2 linked regions of the Homo sapiens genome follow. The gene in region 1 interacts genetically with each later gene. Each region holds a gene or a part of one and is shown in the gene's direction. Other genes may lie near its edges.

The links.
Region 2: of DMRT1 (region 1) and NANOS3, changing one enhances a phenotype caused by changing the other (phenotypic enhancement), as found in Homo sapiens cells (one study listed by BioGRID).

Annotation. Positions count from the first base shown.
Region 1 is NC_000009.12:909,006-924,500, forward strand, and holds part of DMRT1 (doublesex- and mab-3-related transcription factor 1), read left to right. Parts: intron 1-7,754; coding exon of another isoform or gene 7,755-7,757; coding exon 7,758-7,902; intron 7,903-15,495. UniProt on the Homo sapiens protein: Transcription factor that plays a key role in male sex determination and differentiation by controlling testis development and male germ cell proliferation.
Region 2 is NC_000019.10:13,869,844-13,885,768, forward strand, and holds NANOS3 (nanos homolog 3), read left to right. Parts: upstream 1-7,290; 5' UTR 7,291-7,405; coding exon 7,406-7,922; intron 7,923-10,598; coding exon 10,599-10,660; 3' UTR 10,661-10,914; downstream 10,915-15,925. Other genes in the region: BRME1 (break repair meiotic recombinase recruitment factor 1), read right to left, coding at 15,276-15,651. UniProt on the Homo sapiens protein: Plays a role in the maintenance of the undifferentiated state of germ cells regulating the spermatogonia cell cycle and inducing a prolonged transit in G1 phase. Affects cell proliferation probably by repressing translation of specific mRNAs.

The DNA of each region.
Region 1 (15,495 bases):
CGGGAATCCCTTACAAAGGCTGAGTCCTCACAAGTGCCTGTCTCTGCCTGCCTCGGTTCTTTCCTCCCTCTAGGAGGGAAGTGGAGGGCATTCCATAGCAGGACCACCTAAGAGAAAGCAAGGTGAGCGCAGGAGAGGAAGGGAGCAAAGGACTCATCTTCAGAGCTCTGGACACAAAAGGAAAGGAAGTCGGGAGGGGCGGGTTTTCGCTGTGGGAATCTGCTTGGGTCACACACCTCAGCATTTGGCCTGGTGCTTTGGTAATCTCTGAAATGTGTGCATAATAGCAATCATTTTAGCCTATATATTAAAATTTTTTTCTCAGCTGTGAAATATGGAATGCTGAAAAATGAATAAGGTGTGTATTTCAGAAGGTGAACGGGGCTTTTTGGGTGAAGCCCTTTGCGTAGGTGAAGTCTGTAGGCTCAGACAGTTCACGGTGTGTGCTTAGGTGAGCTTGGGAACAGGCATCCCATTTAGATGGTTCGAAAAGAAGCATCTATTAAAACTAAAGCCATCATTTAATGAGGGTAAAAGTCAACCCCAGCCTTCACACCCAGCACCACCAGAAGACCCAGAATTCTACAGCCTGTGAAGAGTCCTACCTTTATAAAAAGGTTTCTGTTCAGAAAACCAAAGGTTTACCCCAAATACAGCTTTTGCCATTTAAAAGACTGTAAGCCACATATGAATACCAAGGGAGTTTTTTTGTTTCTGTTTTTTTTTGAAACAGGGTCTTAATCTGTCACCCAGGTTGGAGTCAGCAGGGCAAACATAGCTTACTGCAGCCTTGACCTGCTGGGCTTAAGCGATCCTCCCACATCAGCCTCCTGAGTAGCTGGGAACACAGGTGTGCACCACCATGCCTGCCTAATTTTTTAAATTTTTTGTAGAGATGGAGTCTCACCATGTTGCCCAGACTGTTCTCCAACCCCCGGGCTCAAATAATCCTTCCTCCTCAGCCTCCCACGTGCTGAGATTTACAGGTGTGAGCCATTGTGCCTGGCTGAGTCATTACACTATTTGTTTAAATATCAGTTTGCAATTAGGAATGTTATCCTATAGAATAACTCTTCTCATTAAGACTGTTCCCCTTTCTGCAAATGAGCATTACTTAGAGCCTCCAGTGAAGCTGAATGAAGCTCTAGAGAGATACGAACTTAACGCTGAAGATTTTTTTGTCTTGAAGCATGAAGAATCAAGATACCTAAATACTGATGATGAAAACTTTTAATAAATGTGAGCACAGGCATTTTTAATGAAAAAGGCATCATCTGATATAAGTTCAAAAACAAATGAAAAAACTTAGAAATTAAAAAAAAAAAAAGACTGTTCCCCTTTGTTACATCAACTCCAGTTTTATGCAGCCATGCGATGTTTAGTAAACAACTAGATGACAATTTGGTCTTCACAAATCCCTTTTAGTCATTCACCTGGATAGACTGTTCACTTTGATGCAAGACCAGGCACTCATCTAAACTGTTACTAGATAACCAGTGACTGGTATTTGGGATTTTTTTTTTTAAAAAAAGAAGTGAACTCAAACATTTTTATGGTTTTTTTTTCAGATATTATTGTTACTATAAAATAGGGTGGCTAACACGTATAAAAGGAAATTATGGCTCGGGTTTACTGTAATGCATATTCTTAACAATTTAATAGAACACAACTCCAAGGTCTTGGGTTGCCTGCAAAGTTAATACTAACACCATGAGCATCCTCCACCAGCCAGCTCTTATCCATGGGTCGTACTCTGGTTCAGAGACTTTGGATGGGTAATAACGTATAAAACATGCCTCTTGCTTGCCAGTGACCACTGCTAATAATAATAGTAGTCATCATTCACTGGAATCCTGGGTTTTTAGGGTTTACTTGGTTTATTTATTTGCTTAGCTTGAAGGAATAAAAAAAAACCTTGAGAGGAAACAAGGAGGCATTTCACAAAGGAGAAAAATATATATCCCTTTAGGAAAACTGAGTGGCTCCTCTGATTTCTTTGCCGCTCTTGTCCCTCAGCAGCACTTAGCTGTTTTCTTCTAGCTGGAGGTGAGGGACTGAGCACAGGGGTGGTGCTCAGTTAGTTTAAAGGGAGCTTCTCACCTTGGCGCTGTTCAGGCCTTGGGTTGGTTAATTCTGTGTCCTGTGGGAATTGTGGGACACTACACTGTAGTGACAGTCAGCAGCATCCCTGACCTTGACCACTAGATGCCAGCATCAACTCCCTGCCCCCTTGTCACAATCAAAAGCGTCTCCAGATGTTGCCAGATGCCCTGTGGAGGATCAGACTGCCCCTAGTTCAGAACTACTGGTTTAAAGTAAAGTGAGTTTCAAAGGCTTCGTTAATTTCCCATTTTGTTTAAGCCAAAAGTAGCAGGGTTGTGATTTTCTTTTTAAAGTTAGAAGAGAGCAGGAAGTAATTTAGTTTGAAATTGCATTCTGCCATGCCTTTTTCTGGGTTAATTGCATTTTTTTTTTTTTTTTTTTTTTTTTTTTTTTTTTTTTTTTTAGATGGAGTCGCACTCTGTCGCCCAGGCTGGAGTGCAGTGGTGCAATTTCAGCTCACTGCAACCTCTGCCTCCTGGGTTCAAGCGATTCTCCTGCCTCAGCCTCCCAAGTAGCTGGGATTATAGGCGCCTGCCACCACACCCAGCTAATTGTTTGTATTTAGTAGAGACGGAGATTCACCATGTTGGTCAGGCTGGTCTTGAACTCCTGACCTCAGGTGATCCACTCACCACAGCCTTCCAAAATGTTGGGACTGCAGGCGTGAGCCACCGCGCCCATCCATGAATTGCAGTTTTAACATCCTGTTTATATTGCTACACATGCACTTAGAAACACATAGAACTGTCCTTTTCTTCTTATGAGCAAGTTGTCACGTGGATGGGTTGTTTGTGGATTCTTTGAGGTGGATGTAGCTGAAGTGACTGATGACCTCAGTAAGTTCATGTACTAGTCTGTTCTCACACTGCTGTAAAGATACTACCCAAGACTGGGTAATTTATAAATAAAAAAAGAGGTCTAATTAACTCACAGGTCCGCATGGCTGGGGAGGCGTCAGGAAACTTGCAGTCATGTCAGAAGGCGAAGAAGAAGCAGGCACCTTCTCTTCTTCACAAGGCAGCAGGAGAGAGGAGAAAGAGAACAGGGGAAACTGCCAAACACTTTTAAAGCATCAGATCTCAAGAGAACTCCCTCCATATCATGAGAACAGATTGGGGCAACCGCCCCCATGATCCAATCACCACCGCCTACCACGTTCCTTCTTTGACACGTGGAGATTACGGTGTGAGATGAGATTTGAGTGAGGACACAGAGCCAAACCATATCAGTTCACATTCTAGTAACCTCAAATGGAGTCTGACCCTTTGTATCTTTTTCTTCTTTTACTGGAATTCTTTTATAGCTCAGTGATCTTGGGGATTCATTAAGGATAGTGAATGTTTGAATATAAATAACTAAATTCCTATTTCCTAATAGTTCTTTTTATTTCATGCTTTTGGAAAACATGGAAAAGGAATTAAGGGAATAAATAAGCACACGCATGGATTTGAAATTGTGTTTATTTTCCAGTAAGCGTTAGTTAAAAAAAAGAATTTTACTGTTCATCTTCATCTTTTTGTCAAATAATACATACATTGGGATTGGCAGCGTTAGCCAGTCTATTTGTCAGATTTAGCCTGTTTTAGTTAATATAGGGGATTGTTGGGATCTCGTACTTCCAAGGTATATGGACGATATGTTGGTAATTGTAGAGCACTGGTTCTCAATCTCGGTGTCATATTAGAATTAACTGGGATCTTTGAAAATATCCAGGGCCCAGGCCACATCCCAGAGCAGTTAAACCAGATTTTCTTGAGTGGAGTCCAGGCATCAGTACTGAGTTCCCTTCTCACCTTACTCCAGTGAGAGTGAAGTTTGAGAAGGAACCAGTGCCACTGTTTACAAATAAAGTTTTATTGGAACACAGCCATGCCCATTCATTTTACAAATTGCTAGAGACTGTATGGCTTGCCTAAAATATATATACTGTTTGACATTTACAATAAAAAGTTTGCTGACACCTGCTATAGACTCATGATCAACATTTTTCAAACATTTTGAAAGGAAGGTTTGTGTAAACTTTCATAGTAAAAAAAACATCCAGCATTTTGCAGAGCATTTAGGCCCAAATCCTATCTGTTTTCTTGTACCCTGGCAAAATTGAAAAGCATTTTCCTTGAAGAACTGGCTTGAAGATATTGTCAAACCTGAAGTAGATGTGACAAACTCAGCCCCCAGAGCAGGGAGGCTCCATTATTTATATTACGGCTTATGTCGGCACCTTGCTTCTAATTCAGTGTTCACTACTCAGACTGTGTAATTGACTTAAGGAAGTCTATGGAGACACAAATGGCTTTTCAATTCAAAGTGTGTTTGAGTTTTTACTGCTGCAGCAGTTGTAGATGGCAACAGACCCCTGAAAAAAATCTTTTAGTTCTGGGGAATTTTGTGTATAAAAATAAAAAAAGAATGAAAATTAAAAATTGCTATTTACATAGTTTCACTTTTCCAGTTCAGCTGGAAACTGGATGGTTGTAAGCAACTGGTAATTTTTTTTTTTTTTTAAGCTGGGGCAGTGGCTGACACTTGTAATCTCAGCACTTTGGGATGCCGAGGCGGGCGGATCACTTGAGGCCAGGAATTTGAGACCAGCCTAGGCAACATGGAGAAAACGTCTCTACTAAAAATACAAAAATTAGCCGGACGTGGTGGGGCATGTCTGTAGAGTAGGCTACTCAGGAGGCTGACGCAGGAGAATCGCTTGAAGCCAGGAAGCAGAGGTTGCAGTGAGCCGAGATTGTGCCATTGCACTCCAGCCTGGGCAACAGAGTGAGACTCGGTCTCAAACAATTTTTTTTAAAGGGTTTCCTTTGGTCTTGGGTTCTGAGAGGTACTAAGTATGAGAGGAAGGATCACGTATTCTAGTCCCTGGGCACCAGCAATATCAGCATCTCCAGCCCAGTCTTACCATCAGGACCTGCATTTTAACAGGACCCCCTGGCCATTCATATGCGCATTGAGAGCTGCTGGGAATCATCAAAAGATGCTGCAGTGCTCTAATTGATAACTGGGTGTGTGTAGTAAACAGCTACCATGATTGTCCCTTTTCTCTTAAATGGTTTAGTGGCTTCTTAATGGGCTCTTCTGCTGTGTGGTCTTATTTATTAGGGGTAGCCAGTTTTTCCTTTTTGGCTGTTTTCCGAGTATAGCTTCTTTAACCTTCTATTTAGTAAAGATTTAATGTGGCCAGGCGCGGTGGCTCACGCCTGTAATCCCAGCACTTTGGGAGGCCGAGGCGGGCAGATCACGAGGTCATGAGATCGAGACCATCCTGGCTAACACGGTAAAACCCTGTCTCTTCTAAAAATGCAAAAAATTAGCCAGGCATGGTGGCGGGCGCCTGTAGTCCCAGCTACTCGGGAGGCTGAGGCAGGAGAATGACGTGAACCTGGGAGGCGGAGCTTGCAATGAGCCAATATCATGCCACTGCAGTCCAGCCTGGGCGACAGAGTGGGACTCTGTCTCAAAAAAAAAAAAAAAAAAAAAAAGATTTAATGTAATGGTAGAAAGTGAAAACGGAGTGATTGGCCTAGAAGAGACACCATTTCATATACTTCAGAAAAACAAACTAGAAAGGATAAAGGGGACTTACCCAGGTAAACTTCACTTGAGAGGAAATAATCACCTGTAATGGTATCTTTGCTTCTCCAGAAGAAGTAATCCACTCATGAGAACATAGATTTGAGCTTGAGAGCAGTAGAGATCAAAAATAAATTCCTTGAGCTGCTCAAAGCATCAGGCAGAAATCAGGGACTTAGCTCTTTCTACCAAACAGCACCATAATACCCAAAGTACACTTAAGCCAGTGTTAGTTGGTGAATTGTCCAGAATGTAGATGTTCATAGAAAATCTTGAGGAAGCCCAGTGCCTAATTTTACACTACCAGGCTCTGTCAAGTTAGTGCTATTTTCTTTTTCAAGTACCATTTAAAATACTTGATTGAAAAACATGATTTTGAATTATTTTGGATTATTTTGAAATTACTCATATTTCTGGACAGAATTGGTTTATCTTGAACATTCCCTTAGATCGAATTTTGTTTAAAAGCGAGTACCATCTAAATTTAAGTTTTAAAAGACTGTCATAAATAACTGAAGTCCAGCTCTGTTGTTGCCGTGAAGATGTGATCATGAGTTGAATGCTCGGTGTCTCTAACAGGGTCTAGATGTTCATGGAAGTGGGTCTTACACAATCAGAGTCATCAGGGCCAGGAAAGTGGAAATGGAGGGGGGGCCCTTTCTAAGCCATCAAGTCATATCTTCTTAGCTTTGAATGAGAATCAGGAAGCCACAGGGAATGAACTGCTTCTTATATAAAAGCTATCTCATGGTCCTAAAGGCAGGGTCTGGTTGCCGGAAAAAAATGAATGACTGCTGTGCTCACATGCAGCTGCCACTGGAGGGGCGCTTGTGCCTCCTTACTGCCTTCCGAGTTTTGCTCTGCCCCATGTGTCCAGTTAGCAGAAGCCAAATCACCTCCAGAATTCAGATCTCAGACTCCTGTTCTTGCTGCAGGGAACAGACACCGACTAACAGGATCCAGCATGGCATTGTGCTAATGTCCACAGCTTCCCATTACACATGGTTTGCATGTTGTTTTACAGTATTTATTTATTTGTTTTTTTTAATATATATATATTTTTTAGACAGAGTCTCGCTCTGTCGCCCAGGCTGGAGTGCAGTGGCGCGATCTCGGCTCAGTACAAGCTCTGCCTCCCGGGTTCACGCCATTCTCCTGCCTCAGCCTCCCAAGTAGCTGGGACCACAGGTGCCCGCCACCACGTCTGGCTAATTTTCTTGTATTTTTAGGAGAGATGGGGTTTCATTGTGTTAGCCAGGATGATCTCGATTTCCTGACCTTGTGATCTGCCCATCTTGGCCTCCCAAAGTGCTGGGATTACAGACGTGAGCCACTGCGTCCAGCCTATAGTCATTTTAAATACTCTCCTTATATGAACACTGTAAGGTAACCAAGATAAAATTCCAGTTTTGCACATGAAGAAACATGGGAAGAGGTCTGATAACTTGCGCCCGTTCAAACAAATTTGTTAGTGTTACAGCAGATTGTGTTGTCCCCTCTCCACCACCCTGTTCTCTTTTGTACTGGTTAATCGAGCACCAAATGAACAGAAGGAATTTCAGGGGTGCTTTAGAGGGGACCTTAAGATAGAAAGGGCACCATCATAGTTCTAGGCCCAGTACATTGGAAGAGCATATTCATGGCTGAGGCCACTTCCAACTTAGATAGGCTATTCCCTTAATTTGCTTTTTTTTTTTGAGACAGGGTCTTTCTCTGTTGCCCAGGCTGGAGTGCAGTAGTGCAAGCAGCCACGGCTCACTACAGCCTCAAACTCCTGGGTTCAAGTGATCTTCCTACCTCAGCCTCCTGAGTAGCTGAGATCTCACTCGTGCACTATCACACCCAAACAATTTTTTGATTTTTATGTAGAAAAGAGGTTTCACTGTGTTGCCCTGGCTGGTCTTGAACTCCTGGGCTCAAGCGATCCTCCCGCCCTGGCCTCCCAAGGTGTCGGGAACATAGGCATGAGCCACTGTGCCCAGCCTGTTACCTTGTTTTAAAGAACTAGATAATTATTGTACTAGTTGTGACATGCAATGTTGATCTCAGTATATTTCTTCTTTTTTCTTAAGCAGATGAAGAACATGGAGAACCGCCATGCAATGAGCTCCCAGTACAGGATGCATTCTTACTACCCGCCTCCCTCTTACCTGGGCCAGAGCGTGCCCCAGTTCTTCACTTTTGAGGATGCTCCCTCTTACCCGGAAGCCAGGGCGAGCGGTAGGTGTCTGGTCACACAGACTGGATTTGGGGTTGAGAGAGGATGGCTATCCAGTATTGGGTCATTAGCTGTGTCTAATGGCTTAGCTGTTAGTAATTGTTGGAAATTTTATTGCTGTGTGAAGCTTGGATAAGTATCCTTTAAAGAATTTAGTTATAAAATGACTTTGCTATGCTTGATTCTTAATATCATGTTTTTTTTCCTTTCTGGATTCCTAGAGTGACAGGAGTAAGATGAGAGACTCTCCCTTGGAAGCTAAAAATGTATTTTATGGAGGATCAATATGAAATACAGGGGCACTTTAAATGTGGTTCAAGACCTGGTATTTTTTGTGAAGTGAGTTTCTGTGCATTGAAAACTCCTTTCCCAAAGACTTTCATTTTAAAATTGAAGGCGTATTCATCTTTTTGGCGAAAACAACATAATAAAACATTTTTGAATACAATAGATCTCAGAGTTTATGCAGTAGCAATGCAAATAACTCTGATATAATGGCTTTGAAATAAAAAATGACTGTTTAATGAATCAAAGCACTTTGAAATACATAGTAACTCGACTTCAATTTTAACATCCCCCAGCATTTTCACTGTGGTGAGAGGCAGGTCTTTACAGCTGCTGCGTTTCCAGATCCCGTGTTTAAGTTCTTTATAGTTAAGCATCCTCTTTTGATGTAGGAAAGTGAGAAACATACACAATAGGCAGTAAGTGGAAATCAGGGCAGTAGAGGGTGTCTTGGAAGAGAAACCAATCTAGAAGAATTTACTCTGTGCTAAATAAAAGGATATGTTCATTTTCTAAGTAACTTGACTCTTTAGAGAACTTAGAGAATGAGAATCAGAACCATGCTTTGATTTCCAAATTCAGAACCAGAAAGTCTAAAATAGCTGGGCAAGTTATGCTTTATTTACCATATTAACATAAAATAAAGGACTTCTATTAATATGAAATATATAGGTCACGGGAGCCTATGTAGTTTGAGCTGCAGAGAGGCCGAAGTACACATTGTTGATTGCAGTTTCACTTTTATTAAGAATCACTTTCCGTTGGGAGTGGACAAGCACAACTCTGTTTTATAAGTATTCATACTATATAATGTGTGCCCATAGGTCCTTCTTTCATACTGCTTTTGAGTCTATATATTTATTTGGCTTATAAGCTCCCTAAGGACAAACAACACATTTTCTATACTTTCTTACCTGCTGTGATGCCTTTTATTTATTTGTTGGTTGAGTGAATGAATGAATGAATCTGGTATTATTTTTAACTGAGTTTGGCCTGTAAGGGCGTGCAAGCATGAAAGGTCAGAATCCTAACTGGCCTGTCTGCACAATTTGGGGATGAAGCAGTTAAAGGAACATTTGTTAATACAGAAAATTAAGAATGAAACCCACTTTCAGGAAGAAATTGCCTGAGCTTCTTACACCAGGAATAATGGAATATTTTTTGAAGCACTGGCGTTCTTGAGACAAAGGTGTAAATTCAGAGCAAGGCAGTAAGACAAAAATATAAGAGGCAATTTATTAGAGCAGAGAGGAGCGAATTTGGAGAGGAGCGGTAGGCATTTGAATTTATGGCAGAAAAGGAAGCGACTCAGAAGGAAAGAGGTTACAGTCCAGGAAAGAAAAAGACCAGCTGTACTAGCGCTCACAGGGAAAGAAGAATAGGTGAATACCACCTACAATTCCTTATTACTTTTCTGGCCATGTGTTTATTTGAAAGAGTAGTGTGTGAGGAGGCCCCAGGCTTAACTTCCTGGTACCCTGCTAACCCACTAACAGTTAAGTAGGAGGCCCAAGCTTCAGAAACGAGAGCTGGGAAGTAAAATCTCAGCACTATCTACTTTGGAATTATCTTCGAGAAGGAGTGTACAAATACGTAGAAAATCAAAATCCCAGCTAATTTTTAACAGAAGGCTTAATGCCTTCCAAATGTGTGCTATTTTGGCTTTTTTTATATTGCATGAATTTTTACAAAGCAAGTGGGAAGGTAAAGGAAGCGTGTTTGGAGGTCAGTAAGGACACCTCAAAGGTCATCTCATGGGACACTGGATCCTCAGTTTTATCAGCATTGACACAGTGGGGTGTTCTTTGAGAGCATGTTAGCCCTTCTGGGAGGTGGGGCTGAGGCTAGAGACAGGAAATGATGGGTGGGGATGCGGACATCAGTATATTCATTTGTGAGATATCGGCAAAGGTTGGCTCATAACCAGTTACATGTGGCAGATCCGTCAAGTCTAAGTTCCTTTGGTTGATTGTGTTAATATGTAAGTTATTATTTATTCTAAATAGGGATTTCTAAAGAACTTGAAAGACAGTGTTTTCAGTAGGTTTAATGTCTTCTTTAAAGTCTTATTTAAGTATAAATTTGCCCATTAAATCTATGTTCTTCAGTTTCTTTAAAAATAAATTTAAGCTTAGCTTCTCTGTCATCTAAAAAAATGAACCCAAGTTCAGTGTCTTCCTCTGGGTTTGCTATAAAGCTGGCAACATGAAATAAATGGAATGTTGGGCGGGGGGAGGGGGGCATTTTACAGGGCAAGTTTTCCTTTTGTCGTGTTACTGCTTTTTAATGCTTTTCTTTGTAAAAGGATAGGAGCCATTCCTTCTTTCCTTATCCTGAAAAACGTTAAGAGGGTAGGTCAGAGAGATGGTGGAGTCAGATCTTGCAGGTCTTTGTAAGCTATTGGAAACAATTAGGCTTTTATTTCAAGTGAGATGGGGAGCCATAGCAGGGTTCAAGCACAGGGTGATTTGTCTGTCTTGTGCTTTTAAATGATCACCCTGATGACTGTTTTCTTATAGACTATAGGGATGCAAGGGTGGAAGCTGGGAGACCAGTTAGAAGGTGATGGCAGTAATTCTGGCAAAAGAAGATGGTGGCTGAGTGAGGGTGGGAGCGTGGCAGTGATGACGGGTGGTCGAATTCTGGATATATTTTAAAGATAGAACCAACAAGATTTGCTGTTGGTCTTTGGATGGGACAGGAAGAGAGGAGTGAAGGATGACTCCTTAATTTTTGACCTGACCAATTGGTATTTTGATTTTCTACGTATTTGTACACTCCTCGAAGATAATTCCAAAGTAGATTGGGGTTTCCAATTATTGAGGTAAAGAAGACTATGGGAAAAATAAGTTTGTGTGCATTACGAGTTTAACTTTGCATGTGTTAAGTTTGAGATGTCCATGAACCACCCAAGTGGATTGTTGATTAGGAGTTGGATGTGTGGAGTCTGAGGGGGAGGGGAAATATCTCTACTGGAGATGAAGATTTGGGGGTTCAGTGCATAGGTTTATTTGAAGTCAATGTGATGAGATCATTTGGAGAGATGAATGTAGGTGGAGAATATAAAGGACCAGGGACTGAGCCTGCGTGTCTCCAGTGTTTATGGCCCTGTAGATGAGGAGGACTAGCAAGGAAAAGAGGGAGGAGGAGCAGCCTGTGAGGCAGGAGGGAAACTGTGTGTGAGCGGTGCCTTAGAAGCCAAATTAAAGGATTTTAATGAGAGCCAAAGAGTGCTGATATGTCAAATGAGATGAGGACTGGAATCGACCATCAGCTGTTGCAAGGTGGAAATGATCAGTGACCTTCTGAGTGGTCACTTTGGTGGGAGGTGAGAACCAAAGCCTGCCTGCGTATTCAGGAGTGCATGGGAGAGAAGAATTGGTGCAGTGAATACAGGCAGCTCTTCAGGAGTTTTGCTGTAAGAGGAATAGTGGGATGGGACGTCAACCCGTGGGGAAGTGAGTTCAAGGAAGGGCCTTGGCTCCTTCTTTAAAGAAGAGAGATTTTATAATACGCTTGTATGCTGATGAGGGCGATCCCAATAGAGGGAGAATTTGTGGATACAGGGAGTGTGTGGAGGGCACAATTGCTGTAGGGGTGACCCTGAGCAAGCCAGGTGGGGTGGGAACCAAGGGTCTGCAGAGTGGGGGCCATGGTCTGATGTGGGTCTGGGAGTGCTTTGTTACTTGTCTAAGAGGGGAGATAAGAAATAGAGAGGAAACAAACTTTATAGCAATTTGGTAGAGCAGTTTTGTCTGTTGAGGTTGATAAAATATTGGGGCTTGTATTTTTTGTCTTTCATTTTTCTAGTAGCCTATTTTTTATTGAGGTAGAATCCACCTAACATTAACTATTAACCATAATTAAAGTGTACAATTCAGTGGCATTTGGTACATTCACAGAGTTGGGCAACCGTCACCTCTATCTGATTGCAAGGCACTTTCATCACCCCAAAAGGAAACCCCCCATCCTCCCTCCTCCAGCCCCCTGGTAATCACTAATCTGCTTTCTGTCTCTATAGATTTGCCAGTTCTGGAATGGAATCTCATAATATGTAGCCTTTTGTGTCTTGCTTCGCTTAGCTTAAATGTTTTCATGATTCAGCTACACTGTCGTATAGATCAGTATTTCATTCGTTTTTGTGGCTCAATATCATTCCATAGTATGGATGGATATACCACATTTTGTTTAGCCGTTCATCAGTTGAGGGATATTGGGTTGTTTCCACCTTTTGGGTAATGTGAATAGTGCTGCTTTGAACATTTGTGTACAAGTCTTTGTTTGAATGTCTGATTTCACTTCTTCTGGGTGTATGCCTAGAAGTGGAATTGCTGGGTCCTATGGTAAGTCTATATGTAATTTTTGAGGAACATGTTACTGTTTTTCACAGCAGCTGCATCGTTTTATATTCTTACCATAGTATATGAGGGTTCCAGTTTCTCCACATCCTTGCCAACACTTGTTTTCCATTTAAAAAAACAGTTTCCAGCCTGAGCAACATAGTGAGACCCCATCTCTACAAAAAAATAAAAAATAAAAAATTAGCTGGGTTTGGTGCCACCCACCTGTAGTTCTGACTACTTGGGAGGGTGAGGCAGGAAGACCACTAGAGCCCAGGCTGCAGTGAGCTATGATCACACCATTGCACTCCAGCCTGGGTGACAGAGCGAAACCCTGAGACACACACTGCATCCAGCACTGCATCACGACACAGCCCTCCAGCTCTGTAGCACAGGCAGGCATGCAGGGGTGCAATCATAGCTCACTGTAGCATCAACTTTCCAGGCTCAGGTAATCCTCCCACCTCAGCCTCCCGGGTAGCTAGGACTACAGGTGAGCACCACAACGCCCAGCTAATTTTTTTTTTTCTGTAGAAACAGAGTTTTGCCATATTGCTCAGGCTGTCTTGAACTCCTGGGCTCAAGCGATCCTCCCACCTCGGCCTCCCAAAGTGCTGGGATTATAGGTGTGAGCCATCTTACCTGGCCAAGAAAAAAGTCTGGGGGGCTCTAGTAATTCATTTTTATTGTATTTTGCCAAAGTACCAGACCACGGTGGGTTGGAAACTGGAAAAAAAAAAGTTTAAAGCAGGCCTCTCCTGCTCCACAGACTGTTTGAAGATCACTTGTCTAGTGCCCAGATGGAGGGTTGGCTTATATAAGAATGTGGCCACTTCGTAGTAACAGATGCAAGCTGTTCGGGAAGTGGTAGTGGGAACAGCTTTGAAATGATGCTTCCCCAGCTGGTGATGAAGAGACAGATCTCCACAGCAGCCCCTGTGTTTTAACAGATGCACCTCTGTCTAGAGGTGGGTGGCACTGCACATTTGAGAATAGACATCGTTCTCTGCATGTTGAATTCTTGAGTATAAGTTGCTGGAGTACGTGGTTGGTCGACACCTGCAAAAAGGTTTAGGTTTCAGTTGGTGAAGGTAATACACTTAGATATTTTTGTCTGTTTATTTTGTGATCTCGGTTTAAAAGTTAGAAATGGTGCCTTATTTCTTTTGGTTCCGTCTCAGAGTGGCAGCCTGCCGTGCAACTTCAGCCTTCCTTCACGTCCAAGCTGCACTCTTTTCAGGAGAAAGAAACATTTAAGGTGGTGCTTACAGATCATGAAGTGTTCATGTATTACTCATTTAACACACAGAGGTTGTCAGCAGTTCCGTGAAGCGAGTTGCAGAGCATCTACATTTTACCCAAAGGTCAGATGGCCACCGTCAGTGATGGGCTCCATGGAGTTGAAGGCTTCATGCTCCTCTGTGATGTGTAAGCAGCTTGCAGAGGCCTCTGTGCTCCCAAATACAACTTTTCGAATCCATCTGGCGTTGGCAATGTCGTGGACCAGGGAGTCTAGCAGTGCCTGATTTCACTGATACCATAGGCCTCTCCTTCAGGATGACCAGGACTGCATGCAAAATGGGTAGCTTGCACCTCAGGGAGTGGACTTGCTTAATGCTGCATGTCAGACTTGGACTTTTAGGAAAAGGTCATCTGGCTGCACCTCCCAAGTTTGCAGGTGAGAAAACTGAGGTTCTGCTCTCTGTTGGGAGCACCCTGAGATCTACTTGCTCTTGATCCAGAACGCCAAAGGTGCCCTTTATGTGAGGTGAGGTGACATTCTGTGACAAGCGGCCATGTGGGGTGGTAGAGAATTCTGTACGTGGAATCTGAATGGGACCCATGACTTAGCAGGTTATGTGGCAGTACCAAATGCTTCCCTGAGAGCCTCGATTTCCTTACCTGCTGAGAGAGGGTGAGGATGTTGGCTCTGTGGAGGCCACACCAGTGAGGATGAAATGGTGTCTGATGTGCAAACAAGCTCAATAATCACAAAATGCAGGTAAAGGATGGCAGGTGTTATCATGACTTTCCCCCATTTTTTCCTGCGAGGGCTGTGTGGGCATTTCACATAGCTCTTCTTGTAGGGGAGAACGATGCCTTTGAAATGTTGTAGAGCTTGGCTGGCACGAAGGAGAGTGGGGCAAAGACTCAGAGGGCTGCGTTTGTTATGTATGCATCCTGCCCTGAGCTGTATTTCTCAGCCAGTAGGATAGAAAAACATCAACCCTTGTCTTTCTCTGCTTTAAGGAAAGCTGAATGTGTTTTATGCAACATTTAGAAAATGCTGAGTTTAATTTAAACTTGACATTTTAGAAACGACTTATTATTTGCTAAATTTCAAAGAAAAGAGAACTTTGTAGGTAAATCTGTTTTCGTTATGTGTCCATTTTGTTCTCAGCTTTAACTTGGAACAGAGAAGTAAGTGGGGCTTTCAGTGGCAACAAGGCCAGTGAATGGAAGGGCATTGGAACTATCCCAGGAGACGAGGTCTTGCTCAGGTCCCCAGCTCTGGAGCCAGTAGTAAGATGATCAATCTCTTTTTTTTTTTTTTTTTTCCACCTGGAGTCTCTCTCTGTCTCCCAGGCTGGAGTGCAGTGGCATGATCTCGGCTGACTGCAACCTCTGCCTCCCAGGTTCAAGCAATTCTCCTACCTCAGCCTCCTGAGAAGCTGGGATTACAGGGGTGCACCACCACACCCAGCTAACTTTTGTATTTTTAGTAGAGATGGGGTTTCTACATGTCAGCCAGGCTGGTCTCGAACTCCTGACCTCAAGTGATCTGCCCGCCTTGGCCTCCCACAGTGCTGGGATTACAGATGTGAGCCACTGTGCCTGGCCTGATCAATCCCTTAGAGCTTCAGTTACATCTGGAAAGTGGAAAACAATAATAACACATGTATCTATTTTTATATATGGATCACATAAGGAATTATGTAAAAGTATGGCAGAATCTGTCATCTCTCATAT
Region 2 (15,925 bases), on another chromosome or scaffold:
GGTACTCATGCGTGAACATACAGAGACACCCCCAACCCCCATGCACCAAGGCTCAGGGTTGAGATCGAGAGGAGACAGCTTGCCACCTCCCACCCTGAGGGACTTCACAGTCAAGACTTCAAGAATCACGGGCAGGACACACGGGCCGCCAGACACCCCTGGGAGCTTGGAGACCTGGCCTTCTAGCCATGCCCACCTTGTTCTTCAACTATTTTTTTTTTTTTGAGACAGGGTCTCACTCCTGTAGCCTGGGCTGGAGTGCAGTGGCGTGACTGCGTCTCACTCACTGCAGCCTCGACTTCCCTGGCTTCCGTCAGCCTCGACTTCCCTGGCTTGCGTGATCCTCCCACCTCAGCCTCCCAAATAGCTGGGACTACAGGCGCACACCACCACACCCGGCTAAGTTTTTCTATTTTTAGTTGAGCCAGGGTTTCACCATGTTGCTCAGGCTGGTCTTGAACTCCTGTGCTCAGTCAGTCTTCCTGCTTTGGCCTCCCAAAGCAGTGGGATGACGGGCATGAGCCACCCGGCGCCCAGCCTTGTTCTTCAGCTTGACGGTAGAGCTGCCTCCATCCATCCATCCATCCATCACTTGCTCACCTGCCTCTGCTAGGACTTCTCACCTCCGACTCTGATCCCCCGACTTGTGCCAGCTGCCCTGCACCTTCCTGGTGCTATGTGTGGGGGGGTGGGGGCAAGGCCCTGGGATAGCGTGGCTTTTTTTTTTTTTTTTTTTTTTTTTGAGACGGAGTCTCACTCTGTCACTCAGGCTGGAGTGCAGTGGCTCAATCTCGGCTCACTGCAATCTCTGCCTCCCAGGTTCAAGCAATTCTCGTGCCTCAGCCTCCCAAGTAGCTGGGACTACAGGTGTGCGCCACCATGCCTGGCTACTTTTTTTTTGTTTGTTTGTATTTTTAGTAGAGATGGGGTTTCACCATGTTGGTTAGGCTGGTCTCGAACTCCTGACCTCAACTGATCTGCCCGCCTCGGCCTCCCAAAGTGCTGGGATTACAGGAATGAGCCACCGTGCCCGGCTCATAACGTGGCTTTTAGAGGGCCGTCCCCCACACCCCACTTATCCCCAGCTCCCCTGCCCAGAAAGACCCTCCCAGCTGCACTGGGGTCAGGTGAGGGGTCCCAGGAACTAAGGATAAAGAAGAAGCAAAATGAAGGCCCTGAAAGACACCCCTACCCCCCATGCACTGAGGCTCAGGGTCACAAGCAGGAGGAGACAGCTTGTCACCTCCCACTCTGAGGGACTTCAAAGTCAAACCAGCAGACAGCTGCAACCAGACAAGCAGGGCAGGGCTGCAGACTCCCTCAGGGGACAGGAGGGGACAGGTATCACGGTCACCAGTCACAGACAGGAGATGGAGATGGGGGGTAAACAGCTAGACACATACAGGCAGATCCAGACAGTTTGAGGCAGGTGCACGGGCTGGGCAGGAGACCCAGATGGAGAACAGATGTGTGAGGGGCATAGTCCGACCCAGACAGACGACCCTGGGATGACCAAGAGACAGGTGGACCCAGATGGACACTGAGGGCCAGAAGCCTGCACGGACCACAGGCAAAGAAGAGAGATAGTCAGACCCAGGATTGGGGCTGCCGGCCTCCTGTCGCCCCAGCCCCAGCTTCCTGGCCTTCAAGACCAGACCCCTCTTCCACTGTGGTCTTGTGTCTTGTCTTAGGGAGAAACCTTACAGGGAACAACCTCCTTGGCAGTTCAAGGCCAAAGCCCTCAGAGGGAGGAGTGGGAGGCAGAAAGGACACACAGGAGGTGTCTGGGGAACCCCCTCCAACATAGCCAGAATGTCTCCTGCCTGATGACCCCCCGCCCCCAACATTAAAGCTGTTCACAGTCATCAAGAAGAAAGATTCCTGTGGGACGAGGTGGCTCATGCCTGTAATCCCAGAACTTTGGGAGGCCCAGGAGTTCGCGACCAGCCTGGGCAACATAGTGAGATCTCATCTCTACAAAACTTTTTTTTATTTGTTTGTTTTTGTTTTAAGTTAGCCAGGCCAGGCACCTGTGATCCCAGCTACTTGGGAAGCTAAGGTGGGAGGATTGGTTGGGGCTGGGAGGTCGAGGCTGCAGTGAGCTGTGATTGCGCCACTGCACTCCAGCCTGGGCAACAGAGCGAGACCCCGTCTCAAAACAAAACAAAACAAAACAACAACAGCAACAAAAAAGAGAATAAAGATTTTTCTTTTTTAAAGAAACGGGGTTTTAAAGAACCACTGCTGGGTGCCGTGGTTCATGCCTGTAATCCCAGCACTTTGGGAGGCCCAGGAGTTGGAGACCAACCTGGCCAACATAGTGAAACCCTGTCTCTACTCAAAATACAAAAATTAGCTGGCCATAGTGGCAGGTGCCTGTAGTCCCAGCTACTCAGGAGGCTGAGGCAGGAGAACTGCTTGAACCCAGGAGGTGGAAATTGCAGTGGGCAGAGATCGCGCCACTGCACTCCAGCCTGGGTGACAGAGCAAGACTCCATCTCAAAAAAAAAAAAAAAAAGAGAGAGAGAGAGAGATGGGGGTCTCACTGTGTTTTCCAGGCTAGTCTCAACTTCTGGGCTCCAGCCATCCTCCTGCCTCCCAACTAGCTGGGACTACAGACAAGAACCAAGCTTTTGAGGAATCTTGAGAGTTCTGGACTAACAGAGCCACTTACCTTCCCAGTCCACAAAATGGGTATATCCTGCTCACAGCGTGATGAATGTAGCGTTATCATCAGTAATGTAATTATTAACACCTGTGCTCCCAACTCACTCTCCTTCCCAAGTCCTAGGCGTTCTCCTCCTTAGAATGATGATCCACAAGGCAGGGGACCGGCCACCTCCCTCGGAAGGGCCTGGACACCTGGGGTGGAGGTGGCGGATAAAGAGAAGCCGATCAGGCCCCCCCACTCCACAGCCTGAATGGGAGGATCTGCTGGACGTGGCGGATGAGCTGCGAGAGAGGGCGCCCCACTCCAGCTCCAGACAGAGGGGTGGGAACGTGACCCCGACCCGGGGCGGGTGAGAGGGCGGGCTCTGGGGAAAGGGCTCTAGAAGGTGCCGGGAGGCGGGAGGGGGGCTTCGGGAGGGCGAGTTAGCCGGGATCGGGCTTGAGGGGCCCTACGAAATTCGGTTTGGGGGCGTGCCCGGTCGGGGCGGACCTTAGTGGGGGGTTGGGCTTCGTGGGGGCAGGACGCAGTCCCGGGGCGTCTATAGAGCAGGCTTTTGTGGAGGGCTCTAAGGGGGCGGGCCCTAAGGGAGCTGGGCTCTTTGAGGACTGGCTTAGGGGTTTGGCGGTGGGCTCCGTGGGAGTCTATATGGGCGGGTTTTAGAGGGAGTGTGTTCTGGGGAACAGGTCAAAAGCGACGGGGCTCTAAGGGGCAGGGCCTGGGCTGGGGCCTTGGCTGGTGGCTCCAGACTGTGGGTGGGGCTCTCGGGGGCGGGGCTCTCGGGGGCGCGTCCTCGGGGGCTCGGCCGGGTTCCGTTGCCACCACCGTGAGGGGTGTGGTGGGGGGGTGGTTCACGCAGCTCGGCACACTTGGGGGTCCCTCATCTACCTTGGGGTTATGCCAGGCGGTTATTTTGGGCCTCAGTATTCCCCTCGGTGAAATGCCAGGGGCCAGGAAATTACTTATTTTTTTGCGACGACGGGGTCTCGTCCTGTGACCCAGGCTGGAATACAGTGGCGCGATCACGGCTCACTGCAGCCTCGAGCCTCGAACTCTTGGGGTCCAAGCGATCCTCCCATCTCAGCCTCCTAAGTAGCTAAGACTACAGGCTCACTACACCACACCCAGCTAATTTTTTTGTAGGGACAGGTATCTCGCTATGTTGCTCAGGTTGGTCTCCATCTCCTGGGCTCAAAAGATCCTCCCGCCTCAGCCTCCCAAAATACTGAATTACAGGCCTGAGCCGCAGCACCCGGCCATGCCGGGTGCACCTTCCTAGGCCGTCCGCAGACCCAGGTCAGGGGCGAAGGCGCGCTCGCCCATCCCTGGTCGTCACTGCTTGGCTTGCGGGGGGTGGGAGATAGGGGTGCGTACCTGTAGGCCTGGGGGCACCCGGGGCGGGGGGGTGGTCGCCGAACTCTGTGCGATCACTGGAGGAAGGGACTGGGGGTCATTTGAGGGATGAGGAAATGGAGAGGGGGCGCCGCAGCCGGTTTTGAGGCCCAAGGGGCAGCCCCCACGTGGCTGCGCGGACTCCCTCCGGAAGTGCCCGAGTTCAGATGCTGTGTGACCGCGCACGCGGGGCGAGCGGCGCCCTCTCTGAACCTCCTGCCTCTCCCCTGTCTAGTGGGGCCCCAGTGCACTTGTAAAGTGGAGAGACCTGACGACCCCCCACCCCCAAGCGCTCCACTCACGCTGTTGTGATTCCTAAACCATCGTGCCCGGAACTCAGTGAAGCTCCCAGAACGTATTACATTGTATTAAAATGGCTTGTTTATCTCCACGTTGCATCAATGCCCTCGGGGCCAGGATCCTCCGTTGCCAGACTTCCCGGGAACACTTGGAATGCCTCCTCCACCTCGGACTAGCAGTGGCCTTTGGCCTCAGTCTCCCCAGTTGACAAAGGGGGGTAATCTGCACCTCCAGGATCACTTTGTGAATTACTTAAGGAGCGGGCTTGAGGCCAGCACTCCCCTGCACTGCTACATCTCCATCCCCATAGCAAAGGCTACATTTTATTTACTAGCATTTATATTTGCCTTGTGTTTTTCCCAGATCTAGGTGCAAACAGCACCTGAAAAGCGTTTGTTTATTTCATGAGAGAAAAGGGGTTCCTTACTCTCTCCTCCTCTCCCTCTTCATGCTCTCTGGTTCCCTGCCACCTACCCCACCCCCGACTCCAGGTCCCGGAAAATTTGCCAAGGGTTTGGGGGAACATTCAACCTGTCGGTGAGTTTGGGCAGCTCAGGCAAACCATCGACCGTTGAGTGGACCCTGAGGCCTGGAATTGCCATCCTCCTGCCGGTGACTCTGACCTTCCAGATCTAGGGGGGCCTGGGGAGCCCCCAATCCAGCCTGGGCACGTCCCCTCCCCTAGGCCACAGCCGAGGTCACAATCAACATTCATTGTTGTCGGTGGGTTGTGAGGACTGAGGCCAGACCCACCGGGGGATGAATGTCACTGTGGCTGGGCCAGACACGGCTTAAGGGGAATGGGGACTGGGGACAGGACCCCCCACCGCCACAGTCACTCAGCCTGTTTTTTGCCCTGACCCCAACCACTCCTCTTTGGAGAGGAGAGCTGGTGTCTGGAATCTGGATGGGCTCTGGCTGGATTTGGGACTAAATATTAGAGGGTTGGGGGTAAACAGGCTGGGGCAGGGCAGCTAAAATCCCCTTTTTTTTTTTTTTTTAAGACAGAGTCTCACTCTGTTGCCTAGGCTGGAGTGCAGTGGCCCAATCTCAGCTCACTGCAACCTCTGCCTCCAGGGTTTGAGTGATTCTCTGGCCTCAGCCTCCCAAGTAGCTGGGATTACAGGCATCTGCCACCACAGTGGGCTAATTTTTGTATTTTTAGTAGAGACGAGATTTCACTGTGTTGGCCAGGCTGGTCTCAAACTCCTGACCTCAAGTAATCCTCCCCCCTCGGCCTCCCAAAGTGCTGGGATTACAGGCATGAGCCACTTTGCCTGGCCTAAAACCCCTTTCTGAAATGTGGGTGGTAAGTTCTGCTCCGTGGAGTGCTCCATAGTTTTGTTTTTTAAATTAGAGACAGGATCTCGCTCTTGTCACCCAGGCTGGAGTGCAATGGTGTGACCTTAGCTCACTGCAGCCTCTAATAACTGGAGTCAAGCGTTGATCCTCCCGCCTCAGCCTCCCCAGTAGCCGGAACCACGGGCACGCACCACCACACCTAGCTTATTTCGAAAAAGTGTTTTTGTAGGAACAGGGTCTCAAAACGTTGCCCAGGCTGGTCTCCAACTCCTAGGTTCAAGCAATCCTCCTCGGCCTCTCAAAATGAGCCACAGTGCCTGGCCAATAAAAGTTTCTTAAATGAATGGATGGGTGGATGAGCTGTGTAAGCGGCACAGCGTCTCTCCTCTGTGTCCAAGTCCTGAGCACACCCTCCCCTCCTGGGACTGAGCTGAGATCTCATCTCGGGGAGGACACTGAAGACCTGTAGGTACTAGGGGTCCCCTCCTAACAGCCCAACTTGCTATCCCCCACCTCCCAACTCCAGAGGGTTCTTTCTCACCCCTCTGCAGCCCCCGCCAGGAAAGGGCTCCCTCCCCAGCACCTAGCCTCAGGGGGCCCCAGTAACTAGAAGAAGGAGGCAGATGTGGTGCTTTTTGTTGTTGTTGTTTTGAGACAGAGTCTTACTCTGTTTCCCAGGCTGGAGTGCAGTGGCTTGATCTTGGCTCACCGCAACCTCTGCCTCCTGGGTTCAAGCAATTCTTCTGCCTCAGCCTCCTGAGTAGCTGGGATCACAGGCACCCGCCACCATGCCCAGCTAATTTTGTGTGTGTGTGTGTGTGTGTGTGTATTTTTAGTAGAGACAGGGTTTCACCATGTTAGCCAGGCTGGTCTCGAACTCTTGACCTCAGGTGATCCGCCTGTCTTGGCCTCCCAAACTGTTGGGATGACAGGCATGAGCCACCACTCCCTGGCCTGGTGCATGTCTTTATAAATAACTGGATGGGCAGGTGGCTTCACACCTCAGTTTGCTCATCCATTCAATGGGGGTTCCACTAAGACAACCGATGTGAAAACTCTTGGAGGGAGACCAGAGCTGGGGGCCGGGGGGCATGATCCTTCCCCCCTACCCCCGCAACCAGCCCATGAGCCTGGGACTACCACACTCCTTTCAGAGACAGCTGGAGCATCAGCAACCTCCCGCCTGGACACACACACACACAAAGAACCCAGGGGCACCTGGCCACTCCCCCGCCCAGGGGAAGGAAGAAAAAGTTATAAAGAAGTTACTAAGTTAACTTCTTTAAGTTACTGGTAACTGCTAGTCTTTGGGGGTGGGGTTTCCAACCCATTCTCCCCATCCTCCAGTGGGGCTGGAGGGCTAAGGACTCCTACAAGGAGGGGAGGCAGGGTAGCCCCCCAATTCCCTGGAGGTGTGTACGGGGGGCTGTGGTGCACCTCGCAGGATGCCCCCCCACACACCCTGTGTCCTGTAGTCCCCCGGCACAGCCAGAGGCCATACAGCCCTTTAGGAGGAGTATTAGTGGGGCACCAGGCCCCCCTGTGACAATAAGGAACCTCCCACAGCCTGCTCCTCCCTCTTCACACCCCCTTGGAGGTAAAAGGAGGGTCGGCCAGCACAGACTCCCAGGCTCCAGAGAGGGGAAGGAAGGGGCAGCAGAGAGGGGTCAGAAGGAGGGAGCTTAAGCCAGGCAGGGTTACTTGTCTCTGTGACTCCTTCCGCCTGGCACATGCTGCCCAGCTATGGGGACCTTTGACCTGTGGACAGATTACCTGGGTTTGGCACACCTGGTTAGGGCTCTGAGTGGGAAAGAGGGTCCTGAAACCAGGCTGAGCCCCCAGCCAGAGCCAGAGCCAATGCTGGAGCCGGTGTCAGCCCTGGAGCCGATGCCAGCGCCGGAGTCGGTGCCAGTGCCGGGACCCAAGGATCAGAAGCGCAGCCTGGAGTCCTCGCCAGCTCCCGAACGCCTGTGCTCTTTCTGCAAACACAACGGCGAGTCCCGGGCCATCTACCAGTCCCACGTGCTGAAGGACGAGGCTGGCAGGGTGCTGTGTCCCATCCTGCGGGACTACGTGTGTCCCCAGTGCGGCGCCACACGTGAGCGCGCCCACACCCGACGCTTCTGCCCACTTACTGGCCAGGGCTACACCTCCGTCTACAGCCACACCACCCGAAACTCGGCAGGCAAGAAGCTGGTCCGGCCTGACAAGGCGAAGACACAGGACACAGGCCACCGCCGAGGAGGAGGAGGAGGAGCAGGTGCCTGCACAGGTGGCTGGGGGGGACCTGTCCGAGGGTAGTGGCTGAGCCCCCCTGTGAAGTAAGATTAGCCCCAGTACCCACCTCCAAGGGTTAGGGGAAGACCTTAGAGAGAGCTTAGAACAGCAGTTGATTTTATTTACGTATTTATTTATTTATCTTGAGACAGGTCTCTTTCTGTTGCTCAGGCTGGAGTGCAGTGGCGCCATCTCGGCTCACTGCAACCTCCACCTCCTGGATTCAAGCGATTCTCCTGCCCCAGCTTCCTGGGTAGCTGGGATTATAGGCGCGCGCCACCACACCCGGCTAATTGCCACCATGCCCGGCTAAATTTTGTATTTTTAGTAGAGATGGGGTTTCACCATGTTGGCCAGGCTGGTCTCAAAACTCCTGATCTCGTGATCCGCCCACCTCGGCCTCCCAAACTGCTGAGATTACAGGCGTGAGCACCGCACCGAGCCAGTTTGTTTATGTATTTATTTATTTATCTTGAGACAGAGTCTCTTTCTGTCACCCAGGCTGGAGTGCAGTGGCATGATCTTGGCTCACTGCAACCTCTGCCTTCCGGGTTCAAGCGATTCTTCTGCCTCAGCCTCCTGAGAAGCTGAGATTACAGGCGCCTGCCACCATGGCCAGCTAATTTTTGTATTTTTAGTAGAGATGGGGTTTCACCATGTTGGCCAGGCTGGTCTCGAACTCCCAACCTCGTGATCCACCCTCCTCAGCCTCCCAAAGTGCTGGGATTACAGGCATCAGCCACCACATCTGGCCCGCAGGGTTATTATAGATGCAGAAAGAAGACTTTTATTTTATTTATTTATCAATTTATTTTTCTTCCTTTTTTTTTTTAATTTTTTTTTTTGAGATAGAGTCTCGCTCTATCCACCCAGGCTGGATGGAGTTCAGTGGTGCGATCTTGGCTCACTGCAACCTCTGCCTCCTGGGTTCAAGCGATTCTCCTGCCTCAGCCTCCCGAGTAGCTGGAATTACAGGCGTGCACCACCATTCCTGGTGTGTTTTTTTTTTCCTCCCATAGAAACAGGGTCTTACTATGTTTCCCAGGCCGGTCTCAAACACGGCTTAGGTGATCCTCCTGCCTAGGCATCCCAAAATGCTAGGATTATAGGCGTGAGCCACCACGCCTGGCCCCAGTGAGGTTTTCTTTCTTTCTTTCTTTTATTTGATTATTTTTCTGAGATGGAGTCTTGCTCTGTCACCCAGGCTAGAGTGCAGTGGCGCGATCTTGGCTCACTGCAACCTGTCTCCCGGGTTCAAGCGATTCTCTTACCTCAGCCTCCCGAGTAGCTGGGATTACAGGCACCCACCACCACGCACGGCTAATTTTTGTATTTTTAGTACAGACGGGATTTCACCATCTTGGCCAGGCTGAGTCTTGAACTCCTGACCTCGAGATCCACCCGCCTTAGCCTCCCGAAGTGCTGATATTACAGGCTTGAGCCACCATGCCTGGCCCCCAGTGAGGTTTTAAAAGAGAAACTCGTTCTAGCAACTTAAATTGCCTTTGAGGAAGTCAGCTAACAGAGGAGGGGCCAGTCTAACTAGGTGTGTTTGGGCACTGCCTCCCCCAGCAGACTGTGAGCTCCTGGAGGATAGTGACTGGGAGAGGACGACCCCTCCCAACTACTCTCAGGCAGCTTTGCAGTGAACATTTCTTAAAGTCATGAAAGGGTCAGGTGTGATGGCTTACACCTGTAATCCCAATACTTTGGGAGGCCAAGGCAGGAGGATCGCTTGAGCCCAAGAGTTTGAGACCAGCCAGGGCAACATGGTGAAACCCAGTGTCTACAAAAAATTAGCTGGGCATGGTAGTGTGTGCCTGTAGTCCCAGCTACTTGGGAGGCTGACGAGGGAGGATCGCTTGGGTCCAGGGGACAGAGGCTGCAGTGAGCTGAGATGGTGCCACTGCACTGCAGCCTGGGCAACACAGCAAGACCTCGTCTTAAAAAAAAAAAAAAGCACTGGTCATGGTGGCTCATGCCTGTAATCCCAGTACTTGGGGAAGCTGAGGCAGGTGGATCACCTGAGGTCAGGAATTCAAGACCAGCCTGGCCAACATGGTGAAACCCCGTCTCTACTGAAAATACAAAAAATTAACTGGGCATGGTGGCATGCGCCTGTAATCCCTGCTACTCGGGGGGCTGAGACAGGAGAATCGCTAGAACCCGGGAGGTGGAGGTCGCAGTGAGCTGAGGTCACGTCACTGCACTCCAGCCTGGGCGACAGAGTGAGACTCCGTCTCACAAAAAAAAGAAAGCATGAAAGACTGCCTCCAGGAGAAGATAGTGTTTCCTGTGAGGTTTGATGCTGTCTCACTGGGAGACGCTGGAGGCCAAAAGGACATAGGGAAGATGGTGTCCTGCGGCCAGCCTTTCTGATGAACAACTTTTGGGAGTAACAGATCCGGGGACCCCAGAGCACGGCGGCCACGAGAGGGCACCACAGTCGCAGAATCGGAACTCCTGTGCTTTGTCTCGGGCTCTGGGTCCCAGCGGGGCCGCCCGGCGGAGCCAGAGACGTCACGGGGTCGCTGTCTCCGGAGCAGCCCCTGGGTGGCGCCAGAGGTCCAGCAGGCCCGGAGGCCGAGTCCGTGGGCAACTTGGGGAGCGTTGAGTCATCGCCTGTGATTAAGCATTTCTCTCCCTCCCCCTCCACTAGGTTTCAGAGGTGCCGGGAAGTCTGAGCCTTCGCCCTCCTGCTCTCCCTCCATGTCCACCTAGGAGGCTGCCTACACCTGGGCAAGGGCACCCGGGCTCGGCTGGATTTCCAGGAAGACCCACCCTATGACGACTGCCCCCACTCCCAGACCCTCCCCCCAGCCTGGGATTGAGCCCTGGGGATGACCCGGGGTTGGCAAGGGAAGAGCTGAAATCGCCCTGTCCTTGGGGACCCCACCCTTTGTGCCATCTGCCGTTTCCCTAGTGCTGGGCATCCAGTCAGCCCTCAATAAATGCTTATGAATGGATCAACAACAGACAAGCCCTGGTCTTGGGACAAGGTGTAGTGTGAACCTTGCTGGGAGTCCTGTACCTAGATCTCCCCTTCTCCTTCTTTGAGTTTCGGCACCCTGGGGTGCTGGGGTGAGCTGCTTTGTGCAGAGAAACACAAGTGGGTGCCTTGGGGTAGCTGGGGGGGTTCATGGCACCTCAAAGCCAGATCGACATCATGAGACCCTTTCTGTGGACATTTGGTCTTTCAGCCACCCCCTGCACTGACATGCAAGATGGGTGGACTCCTCCCATCCCACCCCCAGCTCCGTACTGGAGGTGGGGGCTTCATTTGAGGAAGAAATTGACACACAACTAGACAGAGCCCCCCCCCCCGACATCCTCATCACTAAGGAAGGTGAATGTTTATGTCACCATGGATGCCCCAGTGACAAGCCAGGCAGTTTAGAGCAAGGGAGGGACATTTAGGGGGCAGGGAATGGGACCATGTCCTGGGTGGGCTTGGGCAGGAGCAGAAGGATGGGGCTGTTCTGGCAGGGCGGGGGGGAAATGCATGTGGGGGAATCCCCACACCCCTGCCTGCCTCCTCCACCTCCAGATCTTGTCCTGTTGGGGCAACAGGTGGCAGTGCTCAGGAAGCCAGTGCGCCCACTGTGCAGTCCACATTCCTACCCCGCCCCCGTCCCACAAACCAGCCCTGAGGCCTGTGGTCTGGCAGCGGGGAGCAGGAATCGAGCTCTTTGCTGTCCCCTCTGCCCTTGGCTTTCCGACTTAAAAGACTTAAATTGGAACCGGAGGCCCTGGGGATGGGGGTGGGCTCTTGCAGACAGCTGGGTCGTGGAGGGGGAAGTGGGGAGGAGGAGAAAGAAAACAGAAGGATCCCAGCGGCTCCCAGGGTCTGGGAATGGAGTTACAGTTTCCTAGGGCAGAGCCGCTGGGGCTGGAGACCCGGGGAACTGGGCTTACACCAGGGCATGTCCTGGTGGACAGGGGGCTCACCTGGGTGTGAACCCACCCTGCTCTTTCCTCCCCTCCTGCATCAGGTCTCCAGGGTGTAAGGCTGCAGGGTGGGAGGAGGACCCCGCCTGAGCCATGGGAGCTGGGGTGCAGGAGTCACAGAGTGCTTCATGATGTCGAAGGTCCAGTCAGCCTTTCAGTGACAGATTTCACAGAGGCATTGTTTTCTGTAAACTGGGGATGACAGCAGCCCCTGTGGTTGCTAACAGGACTGTCATCTGGCTCGAGAGGCTTGCGTGGGATGAGAAATGCCACGACTTCAGCCATGTTTGCATCCATAACCTCCTGGGATGGCCTCCTTCCTGTCTGGGGCCCACAGGCAGCTTGTCCTGGAGGATGGGCCAAGCCACCGGAGCGCAGGACTCACCCTGCAGCTGGATGATCGCCCAGGGCGTCTCTTAGGCTTCGACCCGCGTGTATGCTCAAGAGCCTGCACACAGATGTGGGCACACAGTCACCCACCCCTGGAGATTCGCCCCCCCCTTGCTTTCCCAGGGAAGCTGAGGCATAAAACTCGTAGAGGGCGAGGAGGAGGAAGTGGGTAGAGAGGTTTGTGGGCGGAAGGTGAAGGAACTGAAGCCTCAGCCCCAAACAGCAGGTCACGGGGCCTCTACAGAATCATTTATTATGGGTCTTCCCAGAAGAAATAAAATGGAAATGGGGAGAAAGAAAACAAAGGGAGCTCTCTTCTCCTCCAGGAAAGAAACAAATTCTGAACCATCCATACTTGGCTCAGGACCCTAAAATTTGCAAATCCGGACAGGATGGGCCCTGCTCAGAGGTGGCCAGCTTCCTGGAGCCCAGGCCCGCTTGAAGTCACTGGGGCTGTGGGAGACACAGTTTCCCTCCCTGAAGCCAAGGGTGGCAAATGACCTTGACCCTGGCCAGGTGAGGCCAGGACCTCACGGCCTCCTTTGTGTTGTCCATGGAAGACCAACTTCCGGGCAACTGAAGGGAGGTTTGTAGGGTCCACTAGGACCCCCTGGAGCATCTTGGAGGAGGTCTGCGGACATGGGGGCTGGGTGGCAAAGGAAACACAGACCTCAAAGTGGCCTACAACTCCCTCCAGGGTGGGTCCCCTCGAGGGATATTCCCAGGCCCCTTGGAAGGGTAAGGCAGGGGGGCTTTGCCTCCCAGCTTTGTCTTCCGGTAGTTAAGGCGCTTGAAAGCTTCCAGGTCCCGGTGGGTGCCCATGATCAGCCGGCTGTGGGGGAAACACAGGCATGCGTGTGGGGCTCAGTGGTCACCAGGTGACAGAGGGGGCCGCGCCTCACAGCCACATGGTCACCAATGACTCAGGTGCACACACACGGCTCACACACGTGCACATAACCAGAAAGGGCCTGTTGTAGCACAGGCTGGGCCTGTTGCAGCCTTTCTTCAGAGCCTGTGTTCTGCAAAGGACGGGGGAGGGGGGCCACGGTGAGGACCCAGCAGCAGTGAGGTGCCTGACCCTCGCTGCCCACCTAGGGGCTTCACACTTCAGTCCCTCCCTGCTCCTCTGAGTCCCCACTGGCCTCCCGCAGACCCTGTGCCGTGAGTCCAAGCCCACCCCGTACTTCAGGTTGGAGAGCTCAACGATGAGGCCACGCACGACGTTGGTGGCATCCTCCATCCTGGAGGCCTCAGAGGCCTGGATCCCCACGAAGGTCCTGGCCAGCAGGGAAGGAAATTGAGAGTGGCCCGACCTCACTGGACTACCAGAGCTCTCCAGTGGGAGGGGCTTCCGCAGGGCCTCGCGCCATCTTTTCCAGGTGTCCAGCCTGTCCTCCTCTGTTCACGACAGAACCCTGATGGCCAACCCAGCTGGCTCCACTGCCCAGCAGGCCCAGAACCCAACCGCTTCTCCCCTACCTGCCCTGCCCTCTCAGGACGCTGCTGCCACCGCCTCCCTATCTCCTGCCCCTGTGGCTTGTCCCCCACAGGCACTGGGGGCTGTGAACTTGGAAACCTAGCTCAGAGGCAAGCCCTCTCCTCCCGCAGCTGTGCACCACCTGCCTGCCCCGTGCCCTCCCCTCATCCCCCGCTTCTCCCCTCCCCTCGGCTCTAGCCACACTAGACTCCTGGCCATTCCTTGAGCACCTCTCAGGATTCTGGAATGTTCTTTCCCAAATGTCTCCTCCTGGTGGTGGCTTCCCTGATTCCTCCTTACATTTTAACCCCTTCTCCGCTGCCTTTTTTTCCCCAACACTCTGCCATCTGACTATCTAATCTGCTGTCTCTCATGTCCCCACACCCCGAATCCCCCAGTAGCATTCAACTCTGTGTTTTGTCCCACACTGCCTCCCCAGCACCCAGGGCAGTGCTAGAAAGGCCAGCCCAGATGGCATTCATATCCTTGGAAGGTTTGGGAGGTCAAGGTGGGAGGATGGCTTGAACCCAGGAATTCAAGACCAGCCTCGGCAATGTAGTGAGACCCCCATCTCTACAAATAATACAAAATTAGCCAGGCATAGTGGTGCGCGCCTGTAGTCCCAGCTACTCAGGAGGATGAAGTGGGAGGATCAGTTGAGCCTGGGAGATGGAGGCTACAGTAAGCTATGATCCTGTACACCAGCCTGGGCAACAGAGCAAGACTCTATCTAAAAAATATCCCGCCAGGCACGATGGCTCATGCCTGTAATCCCACCACTTTGTGAGGCTGAGGCAGGTGGATTACTTGAATCCAGGAGTTTGAGACCAGCCTGGGCAACACGGCAAAATCCCATCTCTAAAAAAAAATATACAAAATTAGCCGGGTGTGGTGGCGGGTACCTGTAATCCCAGCTACTTAGGGGGCTGAAGTGGGAGAATCATGCGAGCCTGGGAGATCGAGGCTGCAGTGAGCTGAGGTTGCACCACTGCACTCCAGCCTGGGTGATGGGAGTAAGACTGTGTCTCAAAAAAAAAAAAAAAATCACGGAAGAGCCAAGGAGCCACAGAACACCTCCCCCACCCCACAGAACAGGTGCCACTCTCAGACACAGGCAGTACAGGTGGCCAGGCGGGTAAGTGGGGGCCACCCGCCCTAAACCCGCCCATGCCCCAGGCTTCGCAGCACCTCCGGGGCTGTCACTATGGAAACTGCTGTCCTGCTGCTCCTGCCTTGGTCACCCTGAGGTGTCTGGCAGCCCCTGGGTCTTAGCCTCTTGTGTGTGTCATTCAGCCTCAAGCCACCAAACCAGACCCGGGGCCCTCTGGGAGCTTCCAGACATCCAGGACGGTGGGGAGGGGAGCTGCATTGGCCCTGGGACGCTGTCGGAGATTCAGATGTGAACCCTCCCGGCTCTTCACTCAAACCACAGCGGGCCGCTCTGATGAACTGCCTCTGGTCCACGTGCAGGTTGTGTGTGTGGCTAAGGGAGGTGGCCAGTGGCACAGCAGGTACAAGTCACAGGGAGTGACGGCAGGAGGCAGGGACAGAGCCGCCCTCTGCTAGGGGAGGAGAAGGAGGAGGAGGGTGTGGGGGCCACACACAGCCAAGGGCTGAGTCCCAAACCCTCCTCCACCCCTGCCAGACAGAAACAGAAACTTGGCCATAAATAATTGATAAGCTGCCGCCTCTGCAGAGAGGCAGGTTCAAGTGCCAGGTAACAGAGAGGGCAGCCACCCAGCGCTGGCTTCGAGGAGGGCTGTGGGAGGGCACGGGAGGAGGGGACAGGCTGCGGAGACCCCGGGCATGGTGCGGGGGAGAGGGTGCCCTCCTCACACACAGCAGGCTGGAGGACGGCTCACTGGTGGCCTGTGGGAGGGAGGAGGTGGTTCGCCTAGGGCAAGAGCCAAGTGGGGAGGGGAGGAGGTGAGGGCAGGTTAGACTCACTCGGGTGCCCGCCTGGTGCCAGAGCTAGGAACAGCTCCAAGATGGTCTCAGCCAACAGTTCTGAGCCCTGTCTGGGTCCCCTCCCCTTCCCAGGGACTCAGGAGGAAGCTTTGGCCCCTCTTCCCAGAGAGAAAGAGCCCACAGAGCCGGAGGCACTGTCCCAGGGCTCCTGGGGAGCTTCTGGGTGGGGAGATGCTGGGTTGGGTGTCGATCACTGGTCA